2 linked regions of the Homo sapiens genome follow. The protein of the gene in region 1 purifies or fractionates together with the protein of each later gene. This does not show direct contact. Each region holds a gene or a part of one and is shown on either strand. Other genes may lie near its edges.

Region 1 (3,675 bases):
TCTGGATGGACGGGTCTCCCCGTCTGTGAGGAGTGAGCATCCCACAGCAGGAGGAAAGAGCTGAACCTGTGAAGCTGGGTTGACAAGGACTACCTCAGACTCAGGACTTCTGGCCTCTCCAGTGTGGGCGGCTGCCGTGTCCTCAAAATCTCATTGGCCCCTACTCCTTCCTCTTAAAGGACACTCTCAAGTACCTTCCTAACGTGTAGGCCAGGTCTGAAAGGGCAGTCCTCCTTGGCTGCTGGTGACTTTCCAAAGCAATTGTCTTTCTCTCCCTACCTTGTCCATGGCTCCCTGTGCCCTTTCTTTGATCATTCTGCCTGATGCAGCAGCCATAAGACATGGGGAGCTGTCTGTCAAGTGGCAGGAACTGAACACAAGCAGCTTTGAGAGGTGGGGAGGAAATCCTGTGTTATTAGGAAATCTTGTATTATTACACACCCAGGACTGCACAGACCCCAGACCAGACTACCTGGGGTCTTGACAGAAAGATGAACGAGATGCAAAATAGCAGCTACTTCTTTTTTTTTTTTTTTGAGACGAAGTCTTGCTCTGTCGCCCAGGCTGGAGTGCAGTGGTGCGATCTCAGCTCACTGCAACCTCCGCCTCCCAGGTTCAAGCTGTTCTCCTACCTCAGCCTCCCGAGTAGCTGGGATTACTGATACACACCACTATGCCCGGCCAGTTTTTGTATTTTTAGTAGAGACAGGGTTTTACCATATTGGCCAGGCTGGTCTCAAACACCGACCTCAAGTGATCCACCCACCTCGGCCTCCCAAAGCGCTGGGATTACAGACGTGAGCCACTGCGCCCAACCAGCAGCTACTTCTAAAAGAAGAATCTGGTTTGTTCCCAGCGTAGTAACATCAACCTGTTTGAGAGACACCAGCCCACTCTCTTCAAAATGCTGCTGTAAGTTGATAATAATATACTGGAAAGCATTGGACATTTACTATGTACCAGGCACTGGCCTATTTACAGGTATCATTTCATTTAATCCTTACCACAACTCTATCAAGTCAAGTACTATTACATCCATTCTACAGATGCCTCAAAGAAGGCTGATGCACAGAGAGATTAAATAACCTGCCCAAGGTCACACAGCAAGGTCAGGCTCTAAAGCTAGGCCTCTAAGACCCCTGAGCTATAGCTGTTCATCACTGCAGTGCACTGCAATGCATGTCAGATACTCATATTAAATGCAAATGGTTCCATCAGAATTGCTCTAAGGCAGCACCACGCACTCACTGAGTACCTAAGAGTCACTGAGAGTTGAACAAACACACCACAGGCTAGTTCATTTTAAAACCATCTACAATACTCAGTTGTCAGAACTCCATAAGGTAGCCTGTGTTCCAAGTCACAAGCACACCAAAAGTCAGTTCCTCGAACAAAACTAGAGTTTTAAAAATAGCTGACTTGATAGTTTTTTTCCAACTTTCCCATTTCCCCTTTCCTATGACTCCCTCCCACATACACCATCCTTTGACACTGTCAAGAGAAGCTTCAACACAGGCCTAGAATCCTCACCCTCCTACTTCCAGTCCTTCAGTTGGCTCTCTTCCTTCATTCGAATCGTGCTTGAAATCAGTCTGTTGGACCCTCCTCCTTTTTCCCAGCCTAAGAGCATGAGATGGTCATTAACCCTACCATCAAAACTCAGAACTGCAGCAGGTCTATGCTGCTTCTCTCTTAATCACACAGACAGAGTGGGGGAGAGAGGGGAAGAAATAACTACAACACAACGTCTATTATAACATGACATAGATGGGAGTAAGGCCCATACTTGATACTTCTGCGTTCCTCCCCAGCTCTTGGCCCAGACACTCCGTATTCACTGACTAAATGGGTGAACAGACCAATACTGCATAGATGGGCACCAGAGACACCTCTGAGCCAAGAACAAACAAACAGAGGTGTTAACCCTAATGCCAGCCACCCCTACCCCCTCCAGTGCTTCTGAGGGCCTGCACGACACTGTCACCCTGAGCTCCCTGGGGGCAGTCTGGCCTTCTGCTAAATTGTGTAGGCCTCCGAGGTCAGCCCTTCTCTCGATTACCACCTGCTGCTCCTGAGAACTGCCTCCGCCCAGGGCCCCTTGCCCAGTGCCTCACTCCTGCTTCCTTCCAGTAGTCTTCCTCCTGCCTCAGATCTTGTCTCCCGTAACCCTCAGTTTATCTCATTTTTTCCCAGTTCCAAATAATCCTCCATCCACTATGTGATTTCCAACAGTCCATCTCCAGCTCACACACAACCCCTTTGGTGATGACAGGTCACACAGAGGAAGAGTCTGGAGCTTTGAGAAACTGTGGTGGTTTCGTGACAAGCCTGTAGGAATAGGTCTGCTTTGGTTAAGAAGGCTTCATACGCTAACTGCATATAATTCACTCTTTTATAAGGACAGTGAAATCTAACATTCAGGCAGTTTTAGATGAGAAGAGTATAGTGATAGTTTCAACACCCTCCCCAACAACAGTACATTCATGACATCAGAGCCAAAAAAATAAGAGAAGGGGTCTTTGGAGAAATTCTTCAATAAGGTAATCTAGACTCATTTAACACCCTCCTCTCCCTTCAAAACACACACACACACACACACACACACACACACACCCAGGAGAGCTTTCTGGGGCCTATGGCTAGAAATAGAGAGCTCAGGTGTTTCTATCAGCACAATATTACGTGGCATATTCCTCTAAGACAGATGCACCCAGTAGTTCCTCCGACCCACCTACTGAGACAGACACACATAGCACCTCCCCTCCAGGATGAAACAAATGCCTAGCCTCCCCAGCCCCTGCCTCCCCAGGAGAAGGCACACACTAATGCAAGTTTTCCCATAGGCTTTAAAGACAAATCTCTGCAGACTATGCCAGATGGTCTTTTTTTTTTTTCTTTTTCTTTTTTCGCTCTATGCCCTCCTGGCCCCTTCTCCACTTTCCATGGTCCCTCCAACTCAAAGAACTCAATTATCTGCCTGCAGATTTCCCCTTCCCCTCCTCGCAGCCTGCCCTAAACACACCCTCCTCCCAAGCCCATGCAGAGGCACAGAAGGAAGGCCAAGCCAGGGCTCGGAAGGGCTGCTGCCAGGCCTCCTCCAGCCTCAACTATGTGTTCCCCGGGCTTGGCTGCCTCGGCCGACTCTCTTAGGCCCAACGATGGAAATGGGGACGTTTCCAGGGCAATGACAGTTAACAGCTAAGAGGAGTGACAGGAAGGAAGATGTATTCTTCAATCCTTCAGTCCCAACTGCCCCACAGGGAGGTGCTTCAGAAGGCCCAGGCCTCAGAGCCTCCCATCTCCCTGAGGTGCCAGGTGGACCTCCCGTAATGCAGTTCTTAGAATCAGATGCGGTGGGGAGTGGGGCACAGCCTCTCTTAGGTCTAGGCTACCAGTGGGGCCATGATACTTGGATTGCCCTCCTGAATCTGTACACCCCGCCCTTCATTCCAGGGAAAGAGGCTGAACCAGCAGAACCAAGGGTGTCCTTGGCCTGTTCTCCAGTGTATTTCAAAGTTTCATCTTCCCGGGGTGACTGATATCTAATTTGAGAGAGAGAGAGCCCAAGGGGAGAAGGTACAGGAAGCGGAGTAGAAGGAGGAAAGAGGGAGTGAGAACAGGAATGTTACTTTTTAATCCTTAAGGAACATAGACAGATCCAATTTGTGACTCAGC
Region 2 (3,675 bases), on another chromosome or scaffold:
ATACGTTGCAGCCGTATTTGTTCAAATGCCATTACAGGCATAAGAAAGGCTACATAGAATTAGAGCTGTCCAGGCTGAGGTGGAGTTAGCTAAATCCTTCCTACTACTCTGGACCTCTGTCTGAGCATAGTTTGTAAAAACTAGGTTAGTTTCATGTTCTTAGATTTCTGTTCTGGAAGTTTTTTGTATAGTGTTGTTTGTGTCAGATTCTCTTTTATTTTTTTTAACTTTTAAGTTCAGGGGTACAAATGCAGGTTGTTACATGGTAAACCTGTGTCATGGGGGTTTGTTATACAGATTTTCACCCAGGTATTAAGCTTAGTACCCATTGGTTATTTTTCCTGATCCCCTCCCTCCTCCCACTCTCCACCCTCTGATAGGCCTCAGTGTGTGTTCCCCTCTATGTGTCCATGTTTCATCATTTAGCTCCCACTTAGAAGTGAGAACATGTGTGCGATATTTGGTTTTTCTTTTTCTTTCTTTCTTTTTTTTTTTTTTTTTTTTGAGACAGAGTTTTGCTCTCGTTGCCCAGGCTGGAGTGCAGTGGCGTGATCTCGGCTCATCACAACCTCTGCCTCCAAGGTTCAAGTGATTCTCCTGCCTCAGCCTCCTGAGTAGCAGGAATTACAGGCATGCCCCACCATGCCTGGGTTATTTTGTATTTTTAGTAGAGATGGGGTTTCTCCATGTTGGTCAGGGTGGTCTTGAACTTCCAACCTCAGGTGATCCGCCCACCTCAGTCTCCCAAAGTGCTGGGATTACAGGCATGAGCCACCACACCTGGCCGTATGTGTCTTTACAGTAGAATGATTTATATTCCTTTGGCTATATACCCAGTAATGGGATTGCTGGGTGAAATTTTATTTCTGTCTTTAGGTCTTTGAGGAATCACCACACTGTCTTCCACAATGATTGAACTAATTTACACTCCCCAGTGTCAGATTCTAAGCAGATTCCAATCCTTAGTGGGTATTGCATGCTTTTTGCTTCCTGTTTCCCTCAAAGTTGAGATATTTAAGCACCTAATTCCTTCCCATTGGGTCTCATTGCCTTTTAACTTTTGGTCCTGTTGAGAGGCCATTCTAAGCCCTTGCCCTTCAAGCTAAGTGTGTGTCTGGAAACTTAACCTTCTCTGGTGTTCTCTCTGGCCACGTTAGACTCGGGAAGAGGCTCTGTCGGGATTGGCCGGAAGCAGAAGGGAGGTCACTGGTGTTGTGGCTGCTCTGGAACAACTGGTGCTGATGGCTCCCTTGGCGAAGGAGTCTGTTTTTCAACCCAGGAAGGTTAGTGTGTTCCTGTTACTAAGTGGCTGCCGTTCCTCAAATGCTGTCATTGAGCTGGTAGGCATTACTGTGAGATCTAAACCTTCTCAAGAGAAGAGGGGACAATGAGTATTTTCTGTATGCTTGTTATTAGTTCTTTCCCCAGGGGTGTTAAATCAGTGAACACGACAGCTAAGATAAACATCTAGGGAGCTTGGCTCTTAGGTCTGCATTTGCCACATTGCTTTCGGAAAGCAGGAGATATCCTTTCTGTTGACTTAGAGTTTGCTGCAACAGGGTGTGCTGGAGTATCTGTCTGCCTTCGATGAAGAAACCACGGAAGTTTGTTCTCTGGACACTCCTTCTAGACCTCTTGCTCTCCCTCTGGTAGAAGAGGAGGAAGCAGTGTCTGAACCAGAGCCTGAGGGGTTGCCAGAGGCCTGTGATGACTTGGAGTTAGCAGATGACAATCTTAAAGAGGGGACCATTTGCACTGAGTCCAGCCAGCAGGAACCCATCACCAAGTCAGGCTTCACACGCCTCAGCAGCTCTCCTTGTTACTACTTTTACCAAGGTGAGGGTGCCGGAAGAGAGGGCTGGGTTGCCGCAGAGGTGTTTCAGAGGTGACCCGGTGCTCTAAGCAGAGGAGCGCCACTAGATCCTGTGGCTTGGGTGGCTTGAGCCCTTGGGCATGGGGAGGGGTGGGGAGCCTCCTGGGGACTGGCCAAGACTGGTGTGTGATAGAGCCCCTTGTCCTCAGCGGAAGATGGACAGCATATGTTCCTGCACCCTGTGAATGTGCGCTGCCTCGTGCGGGAGTACGGCAGCCTGGAGAGGAGCCCCGAGAAGATCTCAGCAACTGTGGTGGAGATTGCTGGCTACTCCATGTCTGAGGTGAGGCCTTCCTGTAGAAATGGAGGGTCAGGCAGCAGTATTAACCTAATCTCTTTGAGGTAGGCCTAGCCATCCTAAGTTCACAAACCTTCAAGGCCTTTAGTTTTTGTATTTTTAGTCTTTCTGTCAGTGATGGTGCTGTGAATTCTTTGTAAGTGAAGTGTCCCCTCAGCATGCCAGGGTTCTGTTAAATCAGTTAATGCTGTTCCCTGCTTCTCTGGTTCATTGATTGTAGTTTGGGGATATAGATATTTCTTTTATTTAAGATGGAGTTTATTTTTGTTTCTTATCCTCCTTATTGCTTGGGAGAAATGTCACAAATTTGTTGTAAGATTTAAAATTAGACTCTTTGAGTACTATAAATTTTTCATCAAACATATGCAGAAAAAGAATAGAAATGAAAATAAATGGGCTGGATGTGGTAGCTCACACCTGTAATCCCAGCACTTTTGGGAGGCCTACTCAGGCAGATTGCTTGAGGCTAGGAGTTTCAGACCAGCCAGGGCATTTCTACAAAAAATACAAAAAAAAATTAGCTGGGTATGATGATGTGCACCTGTTGTCCCAGCTCCTCAGGAGGCTGAGGCAGAAGGATCACCTGAGCTGGGGAGATCAAGTCTGCAGTGAGCTGGCCTGGGCGGCAGAGCAAGACCATGTCTCAGAAAAAAAAAATTGGGCTTCATTTTCTACTATTTCAGGCCAAGTGTCTTTCAATAGGGAGATCTGCTTTATCTTCCTTCCCAGTTATTTATTCTGTCAGTGGTTCCCAGGTTTTTTTCTGTTCTGTTTTTCTGCCAACAAATAACTTTATCTTCTCTGTTCGTCCCCCTCAGCTGTGGGGCCTTGAAAAAATCAGAAACAGCTGATGGGCTTTAGATTATTTGTTGCTGGACTCAGTTCACTCCTTTGCAGTACAAACCAAAAATAACTGGATTTGGTTGCTTATTCCACCTTGCTGTAGGTTGACAGTTTCTCTTTGGCTTTTCAAAATGAGGATAATTGAGCACTACTGTTTCCAGCCCCAGTGCTGGCTGTGTTATGTATATATTGTTGGATATCGGGGTTAGGACCCCCTGCTTTCAGAGTTAGGCTTGCTTTTGTTGAGTATTGGTCCTTTTTCCAATGTAGGATGTTCGACAGCGTCACAGATATCTCTCTCACTTGCCACTCACCTGTGAGTTCAGCATCTGTGAACTGGCTTTGCAACCTCCTGTGGTCTCTAAGGAAACCCTAGAGATGTTCTCAGGTGAGAATGCCCCTGCTCTGCTTCTCTTTATAGTAGGGTTCAGGGATTCTTGTGGCTAGACACCCAGTGGGGGAGGAAACTTATGGAACTGTATCATGAGTCTTAGTACCTCCTAAACACTTCATCTGTTCATCTAGTCCAGCTGGGCCTACTGTTGTGGGTTTAGCTGCTAATACTGGGAGGAGGTAATGACCATGTTGTCCTGGGTCTACCTCTTTACAACCTGACCAATCTGCAGATGACATTGAGAAGAGGAAACGTCAGCGCCAAAAG

The links.
Region 2: the proteins of DENND2B (region 1) and RNF10 purify together in Homo sapiens (co-immunoprecipitation; one large-scale study listed by IntAct). This does not show direct contact.

Annotation. Positions count from the first base shown.
Region 1 is NC_000011.10:8,804,027-8,807,701, forward strand, and holds part of DENND2B (DENN domain-containing protein 2B), read right to left. Parts: intron 1-3,675.
Region 2 is NC_000012.12:120,561,788-120,565,462, forward strand, and holds part of RNF10 (E3 ubiquitin-protein ligase RNF10), read left to right. Parts: intron 1-1,157; coding exon 1,158-1,283; intron 1,284-1,544; coding exon of another isoform or gene 1,545-1,559; coding exon 1,560-1,836; intron 1,837-2,022; coding exon 2,023-2,156; intron 2,157-3,284; coding exon 3,285-3,402; intron 3,403-3,640; coding exon 3,641-3,675. UniProt on the Homo sapiens protein: E3 ubiquitin-protein ligase that catalyzes monoubiquitination of 40S ribosomal proteins RPS2/us5 and RPS3/us3 in response to ribosome stalling.